2 separate regions of the Homo sapiens genome follow, and region 2 is linked to region 1. The links come from fine-mapping of genetic effects on gene expression. A gene starts in region 1. The other region holds a variant in brackets. All regions are shown on one strand. Distances are from middle to middle. Region 1 holds the start of CLDN11 (claudin 11). Region 2 overlaps SLC7A14 (solute carrier family 7 member 14).

Region 1 (10,487 bases):
GTTGAATTAGACAGGATATCATTTAATGCAGTCTGAGACTCTTGGCAGAGAAGTGGATGAATAGAATTGCTACTTGAAGAGAGAAAACACTCTGAGAGGATTCAAGCCTAAAACTCCAGGTACAAGTTTTTCATTATTTTACTCTATCTACAAGCTGAAGGAAGGGAAATTTGGGATGAAATGGCTTCTGAAGGAATGATATTCTAGTTGCACTGTGAAGAAAGGGCAAGATATGGGGGAGCACCTGGAGCCCTGTTGTCTGTTCTAGAGAACCTGGTGTGTTTTCCACAGTGATTGTTGGAGAAATTTCCTGAAAAGGAATTTTTTCCCCTCTCGTAGCTGAATTTGAATCTCCAGGTGGAAGTGAATTGTGAAGGTGCCACTCTTCTCTGCTGGAAGTATATGCATTGAGGCCAGCGTGTCTAGGTAATTAGAGACTTTTCTGTTTGAGACCTGAGCAGTACACATCCCTTCTACTGCTGAAGGCTTCACTTTCCTGTGGGCGGCAGGTGGGTACCCGAGACCACAAAGAGCTGTACTCTGCCTCTTGCCCACTCCCTAGACCAGCTCCAATCACCACCTCCTGATTTCTTCTGCATGGTGTCTTCAGGTTCTCATCCTAGTGGAACTTGTAGGCTTGCAAATTCAATCTCTCCCTTTCAACCCTTCAGTCAGCTCCATTCAACAGGTATGTATTGAGTGCCTTTGTGTATGCCACGTACTGTGCCACATTCAACAGTTTCGGTGATGAACAAAATAGACAAAATCCTGAAACTTACAGGTCATTTCATTTTTAAAGCCTATGTTTGATATTCTTTTTATGCTATGAATTTGTTCTACAGTATTTCTAAAAATGTGTGTATGTGTGTATCATCAAATATTTAAAATCCACCAGAGGAATTTATCCCTTAAAAAGAGGTCCCCAGGCCGGATGTGATGGGGAGCTGAGATGGGGGTATCTTTTGAGGCCAAGAGTTTGAGACCAGCCTGGGCAATACAGAGACCCCTCCCCCATCTCTATAAAAAATACAACAATAAAAAAATTAGCCAGGTGTGGTGGTGTGCACCTATAGTCCTAGCTATTCAGGAGGCTGAGGTGGGAGAATCACTTGGGCCCAGAGTTCGAGGTTACAGTGAGCTATGTTTGTGCCGCCACACTTCAGCCTCCAGGGGGACAGCAAGACTCTGTCTCTAACAAAATAAATAAATAAGTAAATAAGGGCCTAGTAGAAGTACTTGATTTTTTAATTGAGTAATCTTGCTTAAGTAATTTCATATATGTCCTGTGTTTTCATGTTTGGTTTTCTAAAGAGGTGAATCATCTTTTTAAAATATATGAAGAAAACTTCCACAGAGAAATGCACATTCCAGTTGGGTTTAATTATCCCTCATTTGGAATGTGCAAAGCTGAGGTTAATCATGTTTCTCTACAAGTTACAGCTCCCTTCAGTTTTTTACCAGCCATGCAATGATAAAAGATAACCACTAGCAGGCGCTAAGAGCCTACTCGTTGGCCCAAACTTTGCTCTCAATGTGGGGTTTTGATGCTTGCCAGCAGTCACATCTGCTTTGTGGTATGCATTCGTGCTGTATCTGAATAGCATTTTAGTTTGATTGACTATTTTTGGGTGTAAATGGTAGAAGAACAGTTAACCAGGCCTTTTCCTTTGTTTAGTTCACATCTGGGTTTTAGGGCCTTACTGGCCCTAATCCCCTAATCCTCCCCTTCAAATACCTTTGAATAAGAGTAAGATGAAGGAACGAACTTACGCTCAAGCCACAGAGCATATGACTCATCTTATATTTTTTTTTATAATGGAAAAAAACATTGGACTTAGGGTTAGAAGACCTGAAATCAGGTCTCAGCTCTACCTTCCTAGTTCTGATATGTACTGTGGAAATGTGAAAAGATGGCATGGCAGAGTTTGCTGAGAAAAAATTAACTGAGAAGACCTTTGTCTGGATGGTCTGGGGACCAACGATTGACGTTTATCTGAGGGTGATTAGACCTTGAGAGACTGACTCTTACAACTAAAGGGTACCTGAGACTGTGACAGACCCAGAATATCAGTTTAGTAAGTTGTGCTGCATGGGAAGTCAGGTCTTAATCACAAAGAGGGTTTGGGAGGAGAGCCACAGCCAAGCAATGTGGATGATATTTTTTTTTTTTTTGAGACAGAGTTTGCTCTTGTTGCCCAGGCTGGAGTGCAATGGCATGATCTCGGCTCACTGCAACCTCCGCCTCCCGGGTTCAAGCGATTCTCCTGCCTCAGCCTCCTGAGTAGCTGGGATTACAGGCATGTGCCACCATGCCTGGCTAATTTTGTATATATATATATATATATATATTTGATATGGAGTCTTGCTCTTGTCACCCAGGCTGGAGTGCAATGGCACGATCTCGGCTCACTGCAACCTCCGCCTCCCAGGTTCAAGAGATTCTCCTGCCTCAGCCTCTTGAGTAGCTGGGATTACAGGCACCTGCCACCACGCCCAGCTAATTTTTGTATAATTTTGAAACCCCGAGACGGGGTTTCACCATGTTGGCCAGACTGGTCTCGAACTCCTGACCTCGTTATCCACCCGCCTTGGTCTCCCAAAGTGATGGGATTACAGGGGTGAGCCACTGTGCCTGGCCGCAATGTGGATGATTTTAGCAAAAGTCTCAGCTAAGATAGCTTGAGGGACTTCCCCACCCTACAGAGCCTTGCTAATGGCACCGCATCCTCAGAGTCTGTGAGCCACAGACTCTGAAAATAGTCAAGGATTCCCATTGCGTCTCTCTGCCTCTTGGCCCCCAGTTCTCTTTGCTTCCATGGCTTCCTGCCTTCCTTTTGAAGGGACAAGCCCTCTCTTTACCTTGGGCTAATGAATTCAAACAGGTTACATCTTGTGGCCTCCTCAAGTGGCCTTTTGTACATCTATGCTGGAATGGATTAGACACTGGCTTTACAATTGCTTTCATTGGATAATAATAATACCCTAATTATTTAGCTTGTATCTCTACCAAAGGGAACTCCCACTTCCAATTAATCTACGCTTCCTATAAATCATTCTAACAGTGTCTAATGTGAATGAGTGTCCAGCAGTGCTGGGCACTATGCTGAGTACTTCATATAAATTATCTCACTTGATCCTCACCATGCCCTAAGGGGGCATTTACTATCTCACTTTGTACATGAAGAACCTGAGAGTCACGTAGGTGAAGGGCCAGCTCAAGTGGTGAAGACAGAATGTGAACCTAGGAGGTCCCAGTCCAAGACAGCAATCTTAACAACTTGGCAATTTTTTTTTTTTTTTTTTTTTTTTTTTACCATTTAGTGCCTGAGTTCTGAAATCTGGCTTTACAAACACTATGTGTGTGTGACCTGTGGATGATCTGGGCATTATTATATTCTGATTGGTTGAAGTTTCATGGTTCGAATGTCAAATTCTAATGGAGGCATAAGAGTGCAGATTCCATGAGTGCTTTTACAAGAAGTTGATGTTGCTTGGGTTTTATGTTTTATGTTGTATTTAGCACAAAAGCCATTTTAAAAAAGTGTTATAAGGAAATATCTGAAAACATTCAGTCCATAGACCCTGGTGATGAAACGTCCCCCAAACACAATGGCTCACTCAGAACATACTCCTATGGAATAGTTTCCACAAATCAAACTCATACGAATATAGGGAGGATACATAAGAATGCAAAATCAGGCCAAGCCTGCTGGCTCATGCCTATTATAATCCCAGCACTTTGGGAGGCCAAGGCAGGTGAATTGCTTGAGCGCAGGAGTTCAAGACCAGCTTGGGCAACATAGTGAGACCTTCTCTCTACTAATAATAAGAAAGATTAGCTGGGCATAGTGACTCATGCCTGTAGTCCTAGCTACTCAGGAGGCTGAGGTGGGAGGATCACTTGAGTCCCGGGGTTCAAGGCTACAATGAGCTGTGATCACGCCACTGAACTGTAGACAGGGTGACACAGATCTTGTCTCAAAACAACAACAACGGCAACAACAACAACAACGTTCTGAAGCATCACATTAGCCAGGGGTTTCTGAATACTTACTTTGTACCAATGTTACTTTAAGTTCTGCATATATATTACTAGGTTGGTATAAAAGTAATCGTGGTTTTTGCCGTTATGTTTAATACTTTGCACCAACCTAATAGCTCACAGAATAAAAAAAAAAGTCTATGAGGTAGGTACAGTTTTCATCCTTATTTTACAAATGAGAAAAGGAGGCCAAGAATGATAAAGTAACTTGGTCTCACAGCCAGAAAGTGATGGAGCCAAGATTTGAACTTGGGCAGTTGGACTGTGTTCTTAGTCACTGTGCTTCCTGGGTGATTACTGTGACCCTTGTACTTGACACTCTGCTATCAATTACAAGAGCCATTTCTGTGTGTGCACTTGATTTCCTTGGGGTCTCCAGGGAAATGTAATTGTCTCCTCAAGTCCAGGCTTTCCTAGAAGACATGGTGATTGCACTGATAACCAGCATTAGGGCTGGCTTTGGGAAAGCTCAGTACCTATGATTTATGGTTAGTATCTTAGATTTTAGAACGCTGAGCAGGAAGTTTTTGTGCTTTCTGAAATCCTCACACCTTTAAGTCTCATGATTGGTGAGGAGGCAGTGGTCCAAGGGAATGGATAGAAGGAGATAATAAGATAAGCCAAATGTTTCAAAGGGAGTGAAAACTGTTGAATGTAAATGCAGCTCAAGGAAGACTTCCCTATCTGAATAAAAAGGTGCAAATAATGCGGCCTATTTGTATGCATGGTGGCTTAATGATGTTGATGGTGATGATGATAGCTTTACACTATCAGAGCGCTCATTCTGGGCTAGGCAGTTTTCTCAGTGGGGTACAGATATTAATTTATTTACAGTGAGCCAGAGAAGTCTGCTGTAGCTTTTAATGCGTCTAAAATGGGACACATGAACCCCTTAGGAATTTTCAGACTGATCAGGACAGTTTCCTAGAAACAGTTCGTGAAAGGGATGAGATGGGCCCATGGTATCTACCCCTTCCTAGCTGCGTGAACTTGGGCAACTCAACCTTCTTGTGCTGTTTCTCTATGGCTAGTGCGTGTAATTTGTTGTTGTTGTTGTTGTTTGCTTTTGAGACGTTGTCTCACTCAGTTGCCCAGGCTGGAGTGCAGTGGCACGATCTTGGCGCACTGCAACCTCCTTCAAGTTATTCTCCTGCCTCAGCCTCCCAAGCAGCTGGGGTTACAGGCATGCGCCACCATGCCCGGCTCATTTTTGTATTTTCTGTAGAGATGGAGTTTCACCATGTTGGTCAGGCTGGTCTCGAACTCCTGACCTTAGGTGATCCGCCCACCTTGGCCTCCCAAAGTTCTGGGATTACAGGTGTGAGCCACCACTCCCGGCCTAGTATGTGTCATTGACAATTGTTCCTACCTCAAAGGCTGTTATGAGGATTAAATGAGCTAATGCATGTAAAATGCATCTGCATAATATATAACACAGCTCGATAAATGTGAGTTGCTATTGTTGATTATTATGGCCACGTTTGCCGCTGATGATGTTCAACCACTGAAAAGCATCGTTTTCTTTCTTCTAGTAACTGTGTGTACTGAATGCCTCGCGTTTGTCCCTACTGCACTTTTCAGTCTGTCACAATCCTGGGTCGTCGGGGGACTGTACCGAGCGCCCTTGGAGTGCTCGCAGCAGGGAAGAAGGAGCGAGCAGGGAGGAGCTGAGGAGGGTCGGAGCGGAATGGACACCCAGAGACTGAGATGAGAGAGGGGCTATAAGAAGAGAAACCAGTCGCAGGAAAACAGAACTCTCGACAAACGCACGCCCTCTTTGCGCTCTCCGTTTCTCTGGACCTGGATGGAATTGTTTTACTTTGCATCGCCGGACTGCGCTGCGGACGGGGTGGGGCGGCCCAATGGCCCCCCTGGGGTTACTCTGCTCCCCTTCACGCTTCCCTCCCGGCCCCGCCCCGCGATTGGCCGGCGCGCCCCGGGGCTGCCGCCGATTGGTGCTCGCCGGCCGGAGCCGCGGGGCTTAAAGAGGGGGCGGGGGCGCGCTGCCCAGCAGCGCTGCTGTCCCCGCCGTGCGCCCTTCGCCGCTGAGCTCGCAGCCTCCGGCGCCCACCTCCACCTCCAGTGTCCCGCCTCGGGCCGTCGCCCTCCAGCGGCTCGCGAGCGTGGGAGACGTACCTGGGCAGGCACTGTCCAGCCCAGGCCCAGGCACAGCCGTGAGGGGCGAGGCACGGGGACATCCTGGCGGCCACCATGGTGGCCACGTGCCTGCAGGTGGTGGGCTTCGTCACGAGCTTCGTGGGCTGGATCGGGGTCATCGTGACCACCTCCACCAATGACTGGGTGGTGACCTGCGGCTACACCATCCCCACCTGCCGCAAGCTGGATGAGCTGGGCTCCAAGGGGCTGTGGGCCGACTGCGTCATGGCCACGGGGCTGTACCACTGCAAGCCCCTGGTGGACATCCTCATCCTGCCGGGTAAGGACCCGAGCTTGGCGGCGGCTCCCAAATCCTTATCCTCTGGGTAGAGAGCGGGATATTAGACGGCGTCACAGAGACATTTTGGGGGCTTGAAGACCTTTGGGTACGTTTTTGACATCCCTAGTCCCACCTTGTTGTAAAAGAATTAGGCAGCCCCGAACTTAACTTCTCTAGGCCGCAGTATTCTTATCTGGAATTTGAGATAATAGTGGCAATGTGGCCGGTGGTAACACTGGCCGGGTCCCTTTGAGAATGAACAAACCGGAACACCTAATAGGAACTGAGTCCGTGTTAATTACTGCGGTCCCAGCCCGCATCCTTCCACCGTCCGCTTCCCGAAGTGCTTCCCGCTCCCGCCCGGCCTCCCCCGGGGCGCCGAGCCTTCGCGTTAGGTTCCGCCCGCAGAGGTGAGAAGGAGCGTGTAACACAAGCTGACAGGAGAATCGAACCGGCTCAGGCTGAGTTTCTCGGTCCTCATGGGATGGGCGAAGCGCCCCCGGCCAGGTTAGAGCCCTCCTAGCTCCGTCCGCGCAGCCGCTGAGCAATTCACGTCCAGGGCTCTCTGGGCTGCCTGGTTTGGGAAATGTCACGTTGATTCCCGCACGTGCCCAGGGCCATCTCCGCTGCCCCCGCTACCCCCGCCCCTGCTGTGGGCGCGTCAGACTGCGGGGCTGCGGTGACGCCGGCTCCCGCTCCGCGCCGCTGGGTTGGATAGGGACGAGCGGGCGCTCCTCGGAGGGCGGACTCCACTGGGGAGATACGGAGCGCGCCGCCGAGGGTCGCTCGCCGCCACCCCTCCAGCGTGTCTCAGATTGGGAAGGGGAGGTAAAAATTGACAGCCTAGCGCCGGCCAGGGGCCACATTTTCACATGTGTCCTGTGGAAACATTTTGGGCGACAGCCTCAATTCAGATTTAAACCAATGGGTTGGGCAATGGCGAGGTCGCGGGCACCCCCTTGGTTTTCTGCTGGAATCTCTGCTCTACCCCCAAGGCATGTCCCTACAAGGTGGGCTTCTGTCCCCCAGCCTTCGTGGATTGTGCTCACTTAAAGGATTTTCCCGGTTTCCTCAAGATGGGGAGAAACCTGTCCCTGAAGCCGCCAGTCAGATAAGACTGTGCTCGCCCCTTAAGCCTCCTCCAAGCACGCCCTATTTCCGGTCCTCGCAGTCGGAATCTGAATCCCTCCTTTCTCCTTGCTGCCTAGTACTTGGCTCTTATCCTCACAAAGGCACATTTTATCTTGTTTTTTGTTGATTGTTCGTGAGTGAAGTTCTCCCACTACGTTTTAAATTCCTTGAAGATAGAGATGGCGTCCTGTTATTCTCTTTGCTTCCTCTTCTGGACCTGGCATGGCCTCTGGCACACAATAGCTGCGGGCAGTGCTTGCCTGGTTTGCCTTACGCTATCCTTTCCTTCATTTTGAACTTTCAGAAGGCCAGAGGTCAACGAACGCAGATCTAGACTCAGCTTTGGCTAATGCTGGTGTTGGCAGACCCGGGCCAGCCTCCGGCATCCAGGACTCACAATCTGGGTGAGGGGGGACAAATTGCTAGCCTCAGTGAACCACGGTTGTCTTCTTTTAAAAGTTAAAATCAGATCAACCACCCATCTTTCACGATTATTTGAGGATTAAATGAGATAAGAAATGTAATCTCCTTTGAGATAGTAGATGCTTCATGAATGGTACCTATAGTATTTTATTAAAAGCTGGGCATGGTATTTGTAGGGATCTTTGAAGCATAAAATTAACTTTGTTTTCTTCTCCTGAAATTAACTTTACTGAGCATTCAGTGCCAAGTGGTTTGTTTTCAGAGAACAAAGGCTGTCCTCCAGAGGGGAGTGCATACTCTGGGGGTGGGGGGGGGGTGGGGGGCGGCGCTAGTCCTTCCTGCCTTCCCCCTCCCTCATACTTTGGGTGGAGGCAGGAACAGTCCTCTGTCCCTATCTTTTGGTGTCCGGACATGGCCTTGGCACTGTAGCATGTGGACAGCCAGTGCCATGGATTTCAGAACCTGCATTGCCAGTTGACTGCCTGCTTTGTGTGAGTACTGGCTCTCTACAAGCCGCAGAGGCGGACGGCTGGGTCAGGGGATGGGCCTCAGACTTCCTGGAGCTCCTTTCTGGAGATCTTCAAGTCAGTAGACACTTGACTGATTATCTTTAATTCTGAAGGAGCTGAGATGGGCAGTGCTGGAAGAGGGCCCTTGTGAAGTCCGAATTCTGGCAAAACGTTCCTTGCTAAGAGACAGCGTTGAAGTTAGGCCTTTTTGCACGTGAGGGTCGTGGTGTGTGAGGCAGATGTCGGCTAGATTCCTGGCTTTGCTATGAACTCTGCCTCACCCAGGCCACTAGTACTAGTTCCTTCTGAGCAAAAAAGGGAGGGTAATAAATGTGACCCCCCCCACCTTTTTTAAGAGGAGGGAGAGTTTTAATGAGAAACATTACATTTGAAAGTGAAACAAATTTGTCTGTGAAATTCTCCCAGTATCTTGTCAGATTTATTCTAAATAAATGTGACACATATTGTAATCTGTTTCTTAATACAGTTTTTACTTGGCATTTTACTTGACAGGATAAAGTTCATGTAGTTTTGCTCTACTCTTCTATTTTTCAGTTCTCTTATTCCTTGATTCGCAATTGTTTCCATGATCTGTTGTGGGCACTGTGTTAACTCCGTGAATACCAAGGCAGGTGTCTGCCCTCCAGGAACCCTGAGGGCTGGAGAGATGCCTTTTAAGCAATGATGGACAGTTGGGGAAGGATGCCCAGGGCACTGTGGGTGAGGCAGGAGATGGGGTCCAACAATTTAGGGGCAGGATCCATGAGGACAGCAGCCTCTGGGGAGACAGCAAAGAGAGGAAGCCTGAGTCTTAGTTTAGTCTGGGTTAGGGCCACAGCCAATGTGAATGAAAGCACATGGTTAGGAGAAAATCACCTAGGACACCTGAAGATGAAAGCGCTGCACTGAGACAGACAAAGAACACCAATGATAACAACTAACCTTTTTTGAGGATTTGGTATAGGCACTGTTTTAAGCACTAAATAAATTAACTAATGTAATCTTCAGTAGAATTCTATTACAGAGATGTAGGTACTATTATATTATTATCAATACTTTGTTTGTTTATTTATTTATTTATTTTGAGAAAGAGTCTCGCTCTGTCACCTGGGCTGGAGTGCAGTGGCTCGATCTCAGCTCACTGCAACCTCCCCCTCTCAGGTTCAAGCGATTCTGCTGCCTCAGCCTCCCCAAGTAGCTGGGACTACAGGCTCACACCACCACACCAGGCTAATTTTTGTATTTTTAGTAGAGATGGGGTTTCGCCCTGTTGGCCAGGCTGATCTTGAACTCCTGACCTCAGAAGATCCACCTGCCTTGGCCTCCCAAAGTGCTGGGATTAGAGGTGTGAGCCACCATGCCTGGCCTGTTGTTACTTTATAGATGTGGAAAATAAGACATCATGGTTAAGTAACTTGCCCAAGGTCACACAGGTAGAGCTATCAATAGCAGACTGGAACCAATAGAGGCCCTCACAGAATGATTCTTGGGAGATTTCAGTTTTCATCTGAACTTTCTCAGGGGGATGTAATAATGTAAATGGACTCTTGGCCCCTCCATCCTGGAAGCTTGGCCAAGTGGCCTAAACCAGGGGTCCCCATTTAGTTTCTCCAGCCCCCTTTTTTCTTGCTGAGTTGTTTTAAAAGTTAAAAAGTGCTTAGTGACCTTGGACAACATTAGCACCTTCTAAGTCCTGGAATCCACCAAGAAGGAGGAAGGGAGATGGTGCTGAATTCCCCTAAGGCAGGGCTCAGGAAGCAAGAGAACCCTGTGGTCTAACCTTTCCCATCTGCTCTCTTGTTCCCAGGCTACGTGCAGGCCTGCCGCGCCCTGATGATTGCTGCCTCGGTCCTGGGTCTGCCGGCCATTTTACTGCTGCTGACTGTTCTTCCCTGCATCCGGATGGGCCAGGAGCCCGGTGTGGCTAAGTACAGGCGGGCCCAGC
Region 2 (10,487 bases), 110 kb after region 1:
TTTAGGAAAGGCCCAGAGGGACCCAGTGCAGCCTTCTCCTGGGCATGAATGTCTGCAGGAAAAACACAAGAAAGCAGAAGATGAGACCGAGTGAGAAACAAACCTTGACTTGCGGGGATGGTTGGAGGTTAATGTCCTGAACTGGTAGAACTGGTCTACCCGTGTGCTCATAACACGGAAGGGTTCCATGGTTCCACTCTCCTTGCTCTTCTCTCCAGTCCTAAAGGACTGCCGGCGCGTGCACTGTGTTGCACAGTCATCCTGATGAGGATGGTCTGAGTTAGAGCTCTGCCACTTACTGCTCTGTGGTCTTGGGTAAGCCATGTCTGTGTTTCAGTCTCAGCTGTCCAATGGGACAATAAAGTCTCTCTCCTAGTGTTGATGTGAAGATTAGATGAGTGACGTCCATAAGGAGCTTAAGAAAATGCCTGGCGTATGGAAAGTGCTCATCCATCTCAACTCTAACTACCTCTTACTTTGCCAATACTTGGTCTGTGATTCTTGGGCATATTTTGAGGGGACATGATATCTACATGTTTTTTAACATAAAAATGTAAAATTAGATCCATGAGTCTTAAGAGGGGCCATGCCACCCCATGGGTTATTTTGGCACTTGGCTCCCAAATGAAATAAAAAATGTTTTGGGAATTTTTTTTACTCTCAAACATTGGAATGGTGGGGAGTACTCCTGGCATCTGGGGGGAACCTGAGATGTGAGTTGTGTAGGATGTTGTCACACAACTTTTAGATATTTTGCTTGACTTTCCTGTAGATAAAAATCCTGGTGATGATGATCTGAGCCTGTCAACTCACTCTCTTTTACATATAAACTCATAGGATATTTTGGATAGCCTTAATATACAAGTAAATTGAATTTTCCAGGAATACAACTATAGAATAAATCAAAGGAAGATTATAATGTATTTAGTTTGGAACTTAAGAGGAGTTGTTTGCCCTTTCAGAAAACCAAGGACCCCATGGGAATGCCACCCGTGGTATTGCATTTCTCATGCTGCACCCTGGAACAGCCTGCCATCTGGAACTGGCACGTTTGCGGTGATTTTTCACATAGTGCAAGCATTTGACACCGTCATTTGGATATGCCTGGGTATTTACACACTGAAATATGTTGTATATAGGTAGATGATCAATAATTTCACTTCAGGATACTAAAAGGAGGTATGACAAAGTATTTATTATAAAAAGGGGTGTTGGATCTGATAGAATTAAGAACTACAGTGTTAGGTAATTTCTAAAGTTTAGTAAATTAGGAACTGCAAATATATGAAGCTACATTCTTTGGAAGCCGGAAGCTGGAGAAAATTTATAAAAACTGTATAAAATTTATAAAACTCATAAATGTATAGAATTTTTGAAGTATAGCCAGACGTTGATTCCAAATACTGTACTGACAAGCTCAGGACATTTATATAATCAGTAAGTACCTGCCTACCTCATCTACTCATAGTATTAATGAATACTAAGCACTTAATGTAGCACTTGTCTGCTTCTAAAGGCTTTTCAAACGCTAATTAGAAGAATCAGGTGAAATGTGGCTGTTTGGTTCACAGGTTTGGGTGACAGCCTTTCTGGTTTAATTTTTTCCTAGCTTTGACAGTGTGGCTTCGTGCTGTGTTTTTATTCTTGACAACACCTTAGATATCACTATAGTTGGATAACACGCCAGAGATATTTAACAGGCTAGAGTGTCTGCATTCCTCCCTTCCACGTCCCCTTCCTCCTCTCCTCTTTCTTCTTCTAAAGATTTTCGTATTGGCAAGAAAATATACCATATGTTTACCGAGAAGGCCGCTAGAACAACTGCTTTGGTTGAGGTCTTGTGGGGACATGAATCCACGTGTCTATTTATTTCCACTCAGCCAGCATATAAGGAACACCTGTTATGTGCCAAGCATGGCGTGAGGCTTGTAGATGCAAAGACATAGTCCCTGCTCCCATGGAGCTTGCAGCCTGGGATGAGAGATAGTGGACGCCAAATCACACTGCAAGTGAGAGGGTTTATTTTTGTTTTTCCCTGAAAAGCTTGGCCTTTATTATTTCTCTTTTTACACAAACATCGCATATCTATTGCAGAAAAGTCAGACAATATAAACAACAAAGAACCACATGAGTAAATAAGATACCACCCAGCTAGCTACAACTTGATTTATATTCTTTCAGACCCTTTTCTATGTAACTACACACCTATTTGAATGGACATATATATATGTGTGTGTGTTTTATAAATGTTATATCATTTATTCTGATTTGAAACTTTCTTGTTTTGCTTAACAATATGTTAGAATGTTTTCCCACATCAATAGTTATGGAAACATCATTTTTAATAACTGAGTAGTAGCTTCACTATTGTGGCTTCAGTGTTTTTATTCAGAAAATTGGCCTGTTGCTTTAGTTTTAATTCATCCGTTCAAGAAACTATACAAAGCATCTTCTCTGTGTCAGCCCAGCCTTAGGTAGCAGTTGCTGTGGCAAATGAGACATTCAAAGTCCTGCTGTCATGGTGCTGACGTTTGGTGAAGAGGGAGGAGGCAATACACAGGCTGACAGATAAAATCAGTCAGTTTCAGAGAGGGATACAGACTGTGTTATGGGCTGAATCATGGCCCCCCCAAATTAGAATGTTGGAGTCCTAGCCACCACACCTCAGAATGTGACTGTATATGGAAATAATATCATTATAGATGAAATTAGTTGGGGGGAGGTCATACCAAAGTAGAATGGGCCCTTAGTCCATATGACTGATGTCCTTATAAAAAGGGGAAATTTGTAAACAAAGTCACACACACAGGGAGAACAGACATGGGGGTTATGCCTCTACAAGCAAAGGGATGCCTCAGATTGCCACGAAAACACCAGAAGCTAGAAAAGAGGCAGGGAACGGATTCTTCCTCATAGCTCTAAGAAGCCAACCCTGCTGACACCTTAGTCTTGGATTTCTAGACTCCAGAATGGTGAGACAATACATTTCTATTGCTTAAGCCACATGGACCGTGGTATTAGGTTGGCACAAAAGTAATTGCAGTAAAGCACAAATTGCAAAAACCGCAATTACTTTTGCACCAACACAATACTTTGTTATGGCAGCCCTAGCAAACTAGTACAGGCTTAGAGGAAATAAAATGGGGGTGATAAAGGGGTGGGAAGGTCTCTGTGGACATGGCATTGGCTCCTGAGTGGTGCAAAGAAGCCAGTTGTACCAGATGTCAGGGAAATGCTCCTCACATTGTGGTTCAAGAGGATAGAGCGGGTGTTGCATCTGCTGGGATCTAAGTGAGACTGGTATGGGGTAAGGAGGAGGATTTGAGTGTCGTGTTGACTAATTAAATCCTCACAACATATCTCCCTTTACAGATGAGGCAAAGTAGGCCGGGAGAAGGGCAGTCACTTACCCAAAGTCACCAGAGCCAGAGCTTGGCCCTGGGCTCCGTGGGGCTCTCTTGCTTAAGATGCGCAGAGGTCAGACTGCCAGGGGGCTGGTCAGCCAAGATAACAGGGATGTGATTTGGATATTTAGTGCAGTGAGAAGCCCTTGGAGGCTTTTATTCAGGTGAGCAATATGAGATGACTTACTTTCTAAAAGCTCATTGTAGCTGCGGCAGAATCTTGGGCCCTGGGATCCTTTAAGGCAGCCCGGGATGGATGTAAAAAGGCGAGGGGTGTGGACCTGCTGCAGCGGGGAGGCCGACAAGTAAGCAGAGATCTATAAGCCAGTGGGACTCTGCAGCCAGGGCAGTGCCTGTACACAGGACACTATGCAGGAGGGAGAAAAATTGTCAGCCGGCTCCAGGAGAACCTCACAAGCTGTGCGCTGCTGGAATCGAGGAGAGAGGCCCTGCGGCAGGTTGTGGCTGTGGTAAATGCAGGTGGGCTTCATGCCCGCTTTTGAGGGGTGGTGAATGGTTTCCCATCTTGAGACCCTTGGCAGTGGCTCTCCATCTTGGTTGCACGTTGGAAATACCCAAGGATCTTTCAGAAATGCTGGTGCCTGTGCCCCATCCCCAAAATTCTAATGTAATTTGCCTGAAGTATGGCCTATATACAGGGGTTCTTTAAATGCCCCAGCTTATGCTAGCACAGCAGAATTGAGGTTCCCTGCCCCATGCCAGGCATAATGACAAATGCTCCGTGTGGAAAACCAGATATTGCTGTTTTCCACAGGAGGCCACTACTCTGACAGGTACTTCCGGTTTCCTTCCCTGGGCAGGTCATGGGGCCTCTTAACAGCTCTCCTCGGCAGGCAATGACTATGGAGGCGGCACTGTCTGGAGATATCTCCTGGGCTACTTGTCCTGTTCAGCCTTCATCAGAAACTGTCACAAGGACACCGAGAAACAAACCAGCCTTTTTATGAAAGTGATGGCTTCTATTTGCACTTCGTATTCCTGGTAATTAGAAACCGTATTGAAAATGTGGAGAATCAACCAAAAGCAAAGGTTGAGGGTGGCAAGAATGCCCCCTGGTCCTATTCTCTTCACGCAATTCCCCTGAGTGCTTGCTTTATTGATGCAAACAGGGAGTTGGGACCATTTCCTTTCTTGGTAGGAAATGTACTGGAGAGAACAAAATGTACAAAAGAAAACATGCTTCTAGGTGACTATTGGCAATATCCATATTCATTACCCCCAGATTATGTTAATCAAATATAGTTTTGGAAGCTCATTGCTGTTGTCTTTCCAAGATGAGCAATAAATGTGTGTTGTGCTTTCTCTAGCACTTTAATTCAGGTTTCTCAAAATACTTCACAGCTATAACTAAGGAAGGCTTACAGGGCCTCTGGGAGAAGAGAGTCATCATTGTGGTGCTTGCTGGCATGCTCGAGGGTTCAGTGGGCTCCAAGGATAATGATGATAAAAGCAGGTTTGTTTCAGGATGCAAATAATTACAGTTGAGTAGTTCACTGAATGAGTAGGATTATCGAATTAGGCTAGAGACTGCCTTTGGAGGTGAGGAGAGGAAGGAAACGAAGGCTAACAAAACAGTAAACAGCCAGTAATCATTCCTGCCTGATTTTGCAAATATGCTAAGGGACTACAAAAATCCCTCATGACACACTCGATGAGTAGTTGTCCAGCTTTTTCTGGAACATCTGGGCCGCAGGGAACATTGGCTGATAGAAGCAGCCCTTTCACGTGGTGGGACAGTTAGGATTGCTACA[A/G]GATTCTTTTAATTGATGTCCCCAGGAAAAATGAGGCTGCAGTTAGAGTAAACGTTGCCTGGTTTTCTGAGCCCCACCTGGTGACTGTGGGATCTGAGGACCCTTCTGAGGTCTCTGCCCACTCCCGCATCCAGGTCTTGGCTAACCCTCTCACCACCTCCCTGCTTTTCTTCCTCTGGGCTGAGCTCCTGGCTCTGGGTTAAGAACACAATTCAGGAACCAGGTGCCCTGCATGCAAATTCTGCCTCTGCCTTTACTAACTAAGTGACCTTGGGCAAACCTCACTATGCGTCAGTTTTGCCATTTGTAAAATGGGATCACAGTGGTACCTAGCTCACAGGGTTGTGGTGAGGAGTGGAAGAGCTAATACGTGTAGAGCTTTTAGTACCGCGCCTGGCGTATAGTGCATGCTGTGGGAGCGTTAGCTAGCATCACCCTGCTGTGGCCCCTGACCAGGTGTTTTTTTTTTTTTGTTGTTGTTGTTCCCTGCTACTGACACCCTTCCCACCACCTTCACCTCCTTAGGCAGCTCTCAGAGGGCCCTTGGCCTGATGCCAAGTCCTTAATCAGGGCTTTTTTCTGTTGAACCTCCCCTGGGTTTCTCCTGGCTGCAGCCTGTGCACCTGGTACTTCCACTCCAAGGGATTCTTATTTACCTTTCTCAAACTTGTGGAGAACGGCTTTCCTCTTTCCTGTTTTCCTTTATCTAAAGGGGCCTTCAGCAGATTTGCTTAGGCCTTTGGGTGTTATGCCTCCTCTCATTCTTCTATACTTTTGACTTTTTTCCCCAAGATGCACACATACCTTTGGGATGGCTAGACCATGGTAGGTTCACCTTCAGTTGCCACCCCATCCCTGAAAACATGATCCCCTTCTGACTTTTATGCCTGTGGCTTACTCTGGCTCACTCAGCTAGCATAAGCTTTGATGGTGGATCCTCTCCTGAAGTCCTTGCTCTTCTACTCCTTCCAAGCTCACCAGATACGGCTTTATGTTTGCACCATAACTGGGGATGTGCTTGCATGTCAGCCACTCTGACTTTATACTACGTGGCCAGGTACAGGCCAGATGCGTCTTAATCTCAGGGTCTGCTCAGCTCTGACAGAATATCCTGGTAAACTGAACTGTGATGTGTGTCCCAGTAACTCTCTTCTGTTGTCTGCAGTTTTGCTCTCTGTATCTATACAGATTAGAGTTAATCTGCTTATGGGATAAGTCTTCAAGTTTTTGATAGCAACTAACATATATCTTGGAGTCTTATCTTTCCTAGACTAAACATCTTCAATTTCTTCTGCGATCAACAGTGCCTCACATGTTATAGCTTCTAGATCAACCACATTCTGATTTGTACTTCTTGAATAGGCTGCAGCTTATCATGGTTGACACTTTTGGACCATGACAGAGTGGTAAGGGAGATGTTTTTGATCCATCTGGCCCAGTGTGTGTGTGTGTGTGTGTGTGTGTGTGGTGTGTGTGTGTGCACGCACACACATGTGTGCACAAGCACGTGCCTCTTAAATCATGCAGTGTTGGTGCCTGACAAATTCACTTAGATGTACGATTGGCTTTAAAACCAGGGTTCCTGATTTTCAGATGGCTAATTTTTTCAGTTGTATCTTTGCTGAGTGTTTGATCAAACCCACTTCAAATATTTTTTGATTACCTACCATATTATTTAATGATGTGCTAGCCTGTTTATATTGTATGTGGAGTCTCAGACACAGCCAACTTCGTTTTACTTGGAATATCTTTAAAGGGGACTATGAATCTATAATGACTGCATATTTTAGCTATGCAAATAAGATTGCACCAATTAAGCTTCCTTTTCAAAGCTTGTTGGTTTTTTTTGTTTGTTTGTTTCTAAAAAGTTATTGAGTATATTAATCAGCTTTTGCTGTAGTAACAAACAACCCCAAATTTGAATATTACAATGGTGATGTTTGTCTCTTGCTGTGGCTGTACTCCAGACAGTGGATCGGCTTCAGATCTTTTCCCCAATCTGGACTGGGAGTCTACTCCACACGCCTTCTTATTCCAGGATTCAGGCTGAAGGAGCAATCCCTATCTGATGCATGCTGCTCTTTCGTGGCACAACTGGTGGAAATGTAAAATGTCTCTACTGCTTGTGCTGGGAACTGGCAGTTCCACTGACTTTCCATTAACTAAAGTAAGTCATATGACCAAGCCCAAAGTTAGTGGGGTGAGAAGTGTCCTCCTCCCATTGAAGGCAGGTGAGTCACATGGCACAGGGCGAAGTTGTGCACTTTTCTTATGAAGGAGGATGTAAACAGTTTTGATGATATGTCACTGATCCCTTACTATGCACTAGGCAAAGCAATTATATTTTTCTTCTGAGGCTGTTTTCTCTGAAATGGGCAGATATCTGTACATCTGAGGAAGAAACTTAAGACTCTGATGTGTTCATTCCTGCATTTCCACAATTAATTCTTTAAAGATATAAATAATGATTGCCTGTAAATAGGTAAATTAAAAATTCATCTGCTTCCAACACCAGGCAGAACAAAATAAAGAGAAACCTGTTTAATTTTGTTTGCTTGAAATAATTCTTTAAAAAAAACTTATGAAAACAATTGATTTTTACCTGGTCTGGGACAATATTTCTACTGACACAAATAGTTTCCCATTCTGCTCCCCTGTTTGTCAACACTCCAGAGTTGCGAATACTCTCTGTGTATATATTTGTTGGAAACTGTGGTGAAAACACTCTCAAGAGCATCTACTTGGAGAAGGAAGGATAGGCTTGTTCAGAGATTGGTTACTGAGCGTTGAGACACCACGTTTCTCCTTCGATGCCCCAGTCAGGGAGGGTATCACAGTTTGACATCACCTTCTCCTCTCCTTTTCCATGGACCTCAGGTCCGGTGCCTCAGGTCTTTGCTTGGGGCTAGGTGTCCTTGCATGTGTGGCCACAGTCTGGCATCACCTTCCACTCTTCTCCCGCAGATCAGGGTCTCCCAGGTTAGGGTCTCAGGTCTCTGCTTGGTGTCATGTGTTATTCATTGTATATAAGATAATATTAACAAAACCAGAGTTCAGGAAATGAAAAACTCTTCATTAATCAGATATTACTGGGAAACCTCTCTGTTAGAAGGGACAAATAATACCAAAAACCAGTTAATCCTTCTATGCCACCATAAAAGATTTAAGAATTTGTATTAATCATTGCAAAAGTATTTAATGAGTTCCCGGTGTGTGTTTAGTTCAATGGTAGCTGTTATGGCCATAAAATAAATTATTGTAATCTACAGAATATCAGGAATTTAGGCACAAGGCAGCTTCAGGGAGTGCGAGTGTCCTTTGCTTGTCCTTCCAGATCCACCCAGCAGCCCACTGGCTGTGTCCTGGGGAGCTGACATGCTCCCTTGCCCTCTGGTTGGATTGGTCAATGGGAGGCACCAGCAGGTGATCAGGAGGATGGAAGAGAGGCAGGCCAGGTGTTTATCCCTAGCTTCCCTTTGCCAGGTCACTGTGGGTTGGCTGTGGCTCCAGCCAGGTGGCCCTCTCCACATAGCCCTAACTCTCTCTGGTTCTGATAATTCTTTCTTTATCCCCCCTGTCATTTCAGGCAGTGGGTAGTACTCATGTTTCTAGCCCTTGGAACTGCATTTTGCCTCATGATTTCTCTGCCCACTGCCCTCATCTTTATATATATTAACAGTTCTTTTCACTAACTTTCCTCAAAATACCAGGCTTGAGTGTGCCACGTGCTTCCTGCTGGGATCCTGACTGATACATGGGTATATTAGACGGCTGAGATAGATTCAGGAAATCAACAATACCCGCTGTGTCTACAGAGATACTGGGTTTGAAGTCTGAACAGTGAGGTCTGGGCTTTGACTCTGCTGTGTGACCTTGGGTTTGTATCTTAAAATCCCTGAGCGTCAGTTTTATTATCTGAAATACAGGAGAAATAATAGTTACCTTGTAAACCTGTCATGAGGATTTAATGAGATGATGCTTGTGGATGCAGTTTGGAAACCACAAAGCAACCTATAAGTGTAGGTATTGAAAATGTGACCAATGCCCCAAATATAGCTAAGAGACCGTAAGAGACTTGGTAATTAGCAGAAGTAGATCATAAGCTGTTTGCAATGCTTTGCTTGCCAAAGAAGAAGAGTGAACCATAAAAGTTTAGAAAAACTTTGAATGGAAGACTGATATAGCAATATTTTTTCTGGTTCATATTTGATTAGCCAGAAAAGTTAATTAGTTAGAACATATTTCCCAAACCTTCCAGTTACTTGGAGTTTAACTGCATACAAAAGTTATTGGGAAGTCTGATGGGCCCATAGGTCATTTCTAAATACATGCAGATTTCCAAAATTAACACTGAAAAGTGAGAGCACACTATCATACCATGAATATAGAGTGAATACTCTGTACTCATGAATCAGGAGACCGGAGGTTTTGTCCCAGTCCCGTAGGACAAGCTATGGGTGAGACTTGAGTAAGCCACAGCTTGCTAAGGTTTCTATTTTCTCATTTAGAAAATGTTGATAGGGACTTTTTAATGCAACACTATAGTTGCAAAGTGTACTCATGAGAGATGCATAAGGTGGCTTTTTGCACAAAAATTCTGGTCTCCTCATCCCAAATGTGATTGTAGAGGCCATTCTGAAATGATGAGATCATAAAATATTTGTATTTGAGATCATCCAGCCTGGCACCTTCATGCCATGTGTAATCTGAGCCCCCAGAAGACAATCTGCACCCACTCTGGCTGGATGCCCATCTCAGCATGTCCTTACACTCAAGACAGAACACTAACTGGACTCCTAAGATACTGAAGGAAATGGAAGCCTTTCTGGCAAAATAGAGAAATGCTATCACATATCTCACACAATTCCCTCTTGTATTAGGTCCCTCTGGCTGCTGTAACAAATGGCTACAAATGTAGTGGCCAAAAATGACAGATTTGATATTTTACAGCTCTGAGTCTGCAGGGCTGTGTACCTTCCGGAAGTTCCAGGGACAGTCTATTTCCTTGCCTTTTCCAGCCTCTAGAATTTAGAGGTCACCTGCATTCCTTGACTTGTGATTCTTTCCTTCTTCAAAACCAGCAACATAGTATCTTCTCTCCTCTCTGATCCCCTGCTCCCCTGTTCTAAGGATCCTTGTAATTATATCAAATCTATTCTCTAATCCAGGATAATCTCCTCATCTCAAGATTCTTAACTTAATCACCTCTGCAGAGTCCCCTTTGTCATAGTCACAAATTCTGAAGATTAGAACATGGACATCTCTGGGGAACATTATTCCATCTTCTAAGAACCACTCTTATCTTAGACAT

The links. PIP is the estimated chance that this variant, and not a neighbour inherited with it, causes the effect. A credible set is the group of variants that fine-mapping cannot tell apart.
Region 2: its variant is the best candidate, but not a certain one, in a credible set for the expression of CLDN11 in skeletal muscle (GTEx, PIP 0.71).

Annotation. Positions count from the first base shown.
Region 1 is chr3:170,412,814-170,423,300 of GRCh38, forward strand. CLDN11 (claudin 11) reads left to right here and starts at 6,055. Exons shown (of 3, transcript NM_005602.6): 1 at 6,055-6,479; 2 at 10,350-10,487. The coding sequence starts at 6,254. MIR6828 (microRNA 6828) reads left to right here and starts at 10,290; the gene lies at 10,290-10,349. RefSeq lists an enhancer at 5,803-6,755.
Region 2 is chr3:170,527,037-170,537,523 of GRCh38, forward strand. SLC7A14 (solute carrier family 7 member 14) reads right to left here. Exons shown (of 8, transcript NM_020949.3): 2 at 1-52. The region is part of intron 2 of SLC7A14-AS1 (SLC7A14 antisense RNA 1); the gene reads left to right. Among named protein-coding and RNA genes, the nearest start is that of SLC7A14, 54 kb to the right of the region's middle. The variant A/G (reference allele first, on the strand shown) is at 5,177.